Regions from separate parts of the Homo sapiens genome. Here region 1 is linked to region 2. Evidence: fine-mapped expression QTL. Tissue or cell type: subcutaneous fat. Region 2 holds a variant in brackets; the other region holds the start of a gene. All regions are shown on one strand. Distances are between the middles of the regions.

The links. PIP is the estimated chance that this variant, and not a neighbour inherited with it, causes the effect.
Region 1: NEDD8 starts here. The variant in region 2 is fine-mapped to the expression of NEDD8 in subcutaneous fat (GTEx, PIP 0.98).

Annotation. Positions count from the first base shown.
Region 1 is chr14:24,231,304-24,233,803 of GRCh38, reverse strand. It overlaps NEDD8 (NEDD8 ubiquitin like modifier), which reads left to right and starts at 1,437. Exons shown (of 4, transcript NM_006156.3): 1 at 1,437-1,554. The coding sequence starts at 1,537. NEDD8-MDP1 (NEDD8-MDP1 readthrough) reads left to right here and starts at 1,437. Exons shown (of 7, transcript NM_001199823.3): 1 at 1,437-1,554. The coding sequence starts at 1,537. GMPR2 (guanosine monophosphate reductase 2) reads right to left here and starts at 875. Exons shown (of 10, transcript NM_001002002.3): 1 at 827-875; 2 at 464-585; 3 at 206-325. The coding sequence starts at 550. RefSeq lists enhancers at 1,247-1,541, 708-1,573.
Region 2 is chr14:23,357,173-23,359,930 of GRCh38, reverse strand. It overlaps EFS (embryonal Fyn-associated substrate), which reads left to right. Exons shown (of 6, transcript NM_005864.4): 4 at 1-614; 5 at 966-1,055; 6 at 2,271-2,758. The coding sequence ends at 2,705. Among named protein-coding and RNA genes, the nearest start is that of SLC22A17, 5.7 kb to the right of the region's middle. The variant T/C (reference allele first, on the strand shown) is at 1,501.

The DNA of each region.
Region 1 (2,500 bases), 870 kb before region 2:
ACTTAGCTTTGAATCTCACTAATTCAGATGGCCTTTTGAACTTATCAGATAAAGGGCTTCAGTAGTGGAAAAAACCGTAAATCAGAGCATCCTGACTGCTAACTGCCAGAGAACTGACTGGGCATGGGGGTGGGGATGCAAACACCTCTGCAGTCAGCTGGGCTAACTGGACACCAATAGGGATGGGGCATGAGGAAAGCCCTACCTTACAGAGAACCTTGGCCATCTCAAAGGTGCCCACAGTATCCATATTGGCAGCAATGATGGGAACCCCAGAGTATGTCTGCTTTGAGTTCCGAAATGAAAAGGATCTTGTGAGATCCACCTGCAGATATGAACAGGAAATTGACCATTTCATTAATCCAAAAAACGTACCATATTAGGACAAGGACAGGCATCTTTCTTGGTTGTGGCCCACCGGGAGCGTGGGGTCAAGAAACAGCAAGTAGAGAAGCTTGCTCACCTCACTTCGAGACTTAAGGGTACTGCGTTTGGGCCTCAAAAGGACATCCTTGAAGTCCAGTTTCACATCGTTGTCAATATGAGGCATGGCGCTTAGCCTCGGGGTAGCGATGAATCTGAGGGCTGGAAGGCAGGAAGTCATAAGGACCAATCTTCCCCTGGGCTTTAACGCCCTGTTACGGCTGGTGGCCTCTCTTCGCTTAAGTTGTGGAAGGTCGGGCAAAGGCCGAAGTGTGGTCCCTGAAGCCTGTCACCTCGACCCATCCCGTGGCTGCGATTACCCTAGGGCTCCATCCCAGGTACTGTTTGTTGGGGAGGAGAGCTGGGAAAGGGTTGTGAGAGACCCTGACGGTGCATTCCTTACCCCGCTACACTTCCTTCTTCTACCCCTGCAAAGAGCAATGGGGCAAGAGGCTGATTTAGGGGAACGAAGGAATGTTGGCGACGGGGGGCGGGGAGGGTTCATAACTAGTTTCCGGAATAGAGGTACTCACTTCCTGTTGCCTTGGTCCAGGCGGCAGTTGACCAAAGACCACCTTGCTTAGCAACTAACCTCGTGCAATCCCGCTAAGCCTTCTGGGCCACGCCAACAGGTTCCTCTAGTTGCCGGCGAGAACTACTAGCCGACGAATTCCAGCTTCGGCGGCGGCAGGGCGAGGCCTTCTGGATAACAGAGTTCACGCACTGAGGTTGCTGTTGGATCCGAGGGGGTTAGACTACAACTCCCAGGGGGAAACGGGCGGGACCGCCTCCTGGCACGATGGGAGATGTAGTTCGTTCTGCCCCCACTTTTCGCTAGCCCGGGCTCGCCAGGGACTCTCAGAATCGCAGAGTCGTCATCTCTGCTGTTGCTAAACTGGATGCCTCATTCCAATTTACGACGTCACTGAACCGAAACGCGGGAGCAACCCTGAGCCTTTCCGGAACCCAGTGGGGGGGGGGGGGGGGGTGGAGCCAGACAGTGACCCGGAAGTAGAAGTGGCCCTTGCAGGCAAGAGTGCTGGAGGGCGGCAGCGGCGACCGGAGCGGTAGGAGCAGCAATTTATCCGTGTGCAGCCCCAAACTGGAAAGAAGATGCTAATTAAAGTGAAGGTGGGAGCACCTCCAGCCTTGCCAAGACGCAGTAGTACTGGGCTGGCAGCAGTGCCTTACGGGAGACGTGGGGAAGGAAAACCACGCCTTTCCCTAGCCTGGAGGACGCTGACTGCCTCAGGGCTCCGCGCGAGGGGTGGTGGGAAATAGGGGGACCCAGAAGGGCTTTGAGAGCGGGGCCCAGGTCCCACCTGACGACCCTGGGGTATTTTGCCATGCCTGCTTTTTTGCCAGGACTGTGCTATCACCCAGAATGGGGTCGCTTTTGTCGGGTCTCACTGTATTCGAACCCCCGCAGTCATAGAGAAGGCCTAGCAGCGGCTTGACTCCCCCGTCTCTCAGATTCTTGGAGTAAGCGCTGCTCTCCATTCTTCATTCCCAGGGTACCTGCTTCTCCCAGTCCCTAACGTAGGTCGCCTCCGAGCACAGCCCTAAAATCGGGGCCTCCCAAGGGCTAGACTATGAGCCTTTACTGGTGGTTGCCAAGGTGTGGTATCTCACCCGTCCTACAGGAACCAAAGCGGGGAGTGTGTTCAGTCAGTACCTGCCTTTCTGAGCCTGGCATCCTGGACCAGCCTCACTTCCTTGGCTGAGGCAGGTTAGTTACCGCTGCCCTAGTTCTTGCTACTAGCCATGGTTTCCTTCATCTGCATCTCTCAACTCCCGTGGTGGTTCTTCACCAATTTCCAGCCCTCGTTAGTCCTATCTGCTGTTTCCTCTTTTGTGCCTTCAGACAGACAGAGACCCCCCCCCCCACGCCCCCCTCAAAAAAACAAAACTGCTGACAAGTGAAGTCTAATGCTAGTTTGGCCTTTTTGTAGCTAAGTAAATCTATCGTTATTTCATCAGCTTCTTAGCATATTTACCGTACATAATAGTCATTCTTAACCTTCTCTTCCCCAGTCCTTCCAAACTACTTCTTAGCTAAGATTTGAGGTCTAGTATT
Region 2 (2,758 bases):
AGGATGATGCTCCCTATGATGTGCCTCTGACCCCAAAGCCACCTGCAGAGCTGGAACCAGATCTGGAGTGGGAAGGAGGCCGGGAGCCGGGGCCCCCCATCTATGCTGCCCCCTCCAACCTGAAACGAGCGTCAGCCTTACTCAATTTGTATGAAGCACCCGAGGAACTGCTGGCAGACGGGGAGGGCGGGGGCACTGATGAGGGGATCTACGATGTGCCTCTGCTGGGGCCAGAGGCTCCCCCTTCTCCAGAGCCCCCTGGAGCCTTGGCCTCCCATGACCAGGACACCCTGGCCCAGCTTCTGGCCAGAAGCCCCCCACCCCCACACAGGCCCCGGCTCCCCTCAGCTGAGAGCCTGTCCCGCCGCCCTCTGCCTGCCCTGCCTGTCCCTGAGGCCCCCAGCCCCTCCCCAGTGCCCTCTCCTGCCCCAGGCCGGAAGGGCAGCATCCAGGACCGGCCTCTGCCCCCACCCCCACCCCGCCTGCCTGGTTATGGAGGCCCCAAGGTCGAGGGGGATCCAGAGGGCAGGGAGATGGAGGATGACCCAGCAGGACACCACAATGAGTACGAGGGCATTCCGATGGCCGAGGAGTATGACTATGTCCACCTGAAGGTGAGCGCCCCTTGGCAGCCCCACCAGGAGGGACCCCAGAGGGACCAAGGGGAGGGGTGTGGAGACCTAGGGCACAGAGGCAGAGCCTCCCTGCCTCCCTTCTGTCCCCCTTCCCTCTACCCTGCAGCCTGGGACCCCAGTACTTGGCCACAACACTTGTACCAGTGCCACACTGTTCCTCCTAGACCCAGCCTGGGGCCACCAGAGCTCTCTGGAGTCAAGGGACTACAACCTCTGATAACAGGAGTGTCCTTCGGAAGGAAGGGGGTCCGGGGAAGGGGCAGAAAGGCCACAGAGGCCACCCCGTCCTGCTCCCCCACCCCGACACTGAGACCTGATCCCCTCCTGCAGGGCATGGACAAAGCTCAGGGATCTAGGCCCCCGGATCAGGCCTGCACAGGGGATCCTGAACTGCCCGAGAGGGGGATGCCGGCGCCGCAGGTGACCCTGGCGGGAATGGTGCTAGAGAAGGGGACAGGGGAGGGAGGAATGGGGACTTGGGAGAAGAACTGAGCCATCAACCGTGGAAGGAAATAGGTTAGGATGGAGTGAGAGTTCACAGGAACCAGGGACAGAGCGGAGGCAAGTTAGAAATCTACAGGAAGGAACTGGACCTTGGAAGAGGATGTTAGGAATTCAGAAAGAGGGGAAAGAATGTGTTGGAGAGGAGTCAGAAAATCAAGCAGCCAGGAGAGCAGAAAGTTTCTGAGTTGTGGGGTCAGAGCTGGGCCTGGGGACTTCTGAGCCTCCTTCCAACTGTGAATTCCTGGGCTCCTAAGAGACCTGGCTTCTAATCCCAGCTTCACTACTGAGAAGCCAGGGGCTTTGAAGCCGTCAGTTAATCTCTCCAGGCCTCAGAAAGTGAGGTGGTTTCCTCAACCCTGCG[T/C]AGAATGGTCGCAACACAATAGCTACCATTTATCAGGTATTTACCAAGTGCCAGACCCTGTGCTAGGCACACTGCACGTGTTAGTATTAATCACAGCCACAGTTAACACTCATCTGGTGCTCACAGTGTGAAATGCACTTTGCTAAGCCCTTTCTGTATATTATCTCAATTGACCTTCACTGCAGCCTCATGAGGTACATACTAGAACTGCACTATCTAGTACAGTAGCCACTAGCTACATATGGCTATTGAGCACTCAAGATAGGCCTAGTTCAAATTGAAATATGCTGCAAATATAAAATGCAGCCTGGATTTTACAGACTCAGTATGGGAAAAATCTCAATAATTTTCATGTTGATTATATGTTGAAATTATAACATTTTTATATTTGGAGTTAGATAAAATATATTAGGGTTTTGTTTTTTTTTTAACCACTTTTAATGTGGCTACTAACACATCTAAAATTTCACATGTGGTTCACATTATGTTTATATTGGACAGTGCAGTCCTAGACTCCCTGTTTTAGAGTTAAGGAAACCAAGTTCAAAGCCTTGTCCGAAATCAAGTTTGAGGTTGTTTGAATCCAGATCTATCTGATATCAAGTGTGGGCACTTCACTGCTGCTCTCTCTAGAATCTAAACTTTCCGATGGGCAGAGGTAAGAGCTAAAAGGATCGCCCTTGGGAAGAAAGAGAGGAAGGAGAAAAGAAGTGAGGGAGGAAATGGCACTCATGAGAATGTTCTCTCTGACCACTCCTCTTGCCCTTCAGGAGGCCCTGTCCCCAGGGGAGCCACTGGTTGTGTCCACCGGAGATCTGCAGCTCCTGTACTTCTATGCTGGGCAATGCCAGAGCCACTACTCAGCCCTGCAGGCAGCCGTGGCAGCCCTGATGTCCAGTACCCAGGCTAATCAGCCCCCGCGCCTTTTCGTGCCCCACAGCAAGAGGGTGGTGGTGGCTGCTCATCGCCTGGTGTTTGTTGGGGACACCCTGGGCCGGCTGGCAGCCTCTGCCCCTCTGAGAGCACAGGTCAGGGCTGCAGGTACAGCACTGGGCCAGGCATTGCGGGCCACTGTGCTGGCTGTCAAGGGAGCTGCCCTGGGCTACCCATCCAGCCCTGCCATCCAAGAGATGGTGCAGTGTGTAACAGAACTGGCAGGGCAGGCCCTGCAATTCACTACCCTGCTCACTAGCCTGGCTCCATGAAGGTCCTTTGGCACAGCTCTGCTCCTCCCCTGCCTGCCAAAGCCCCCCTTTAG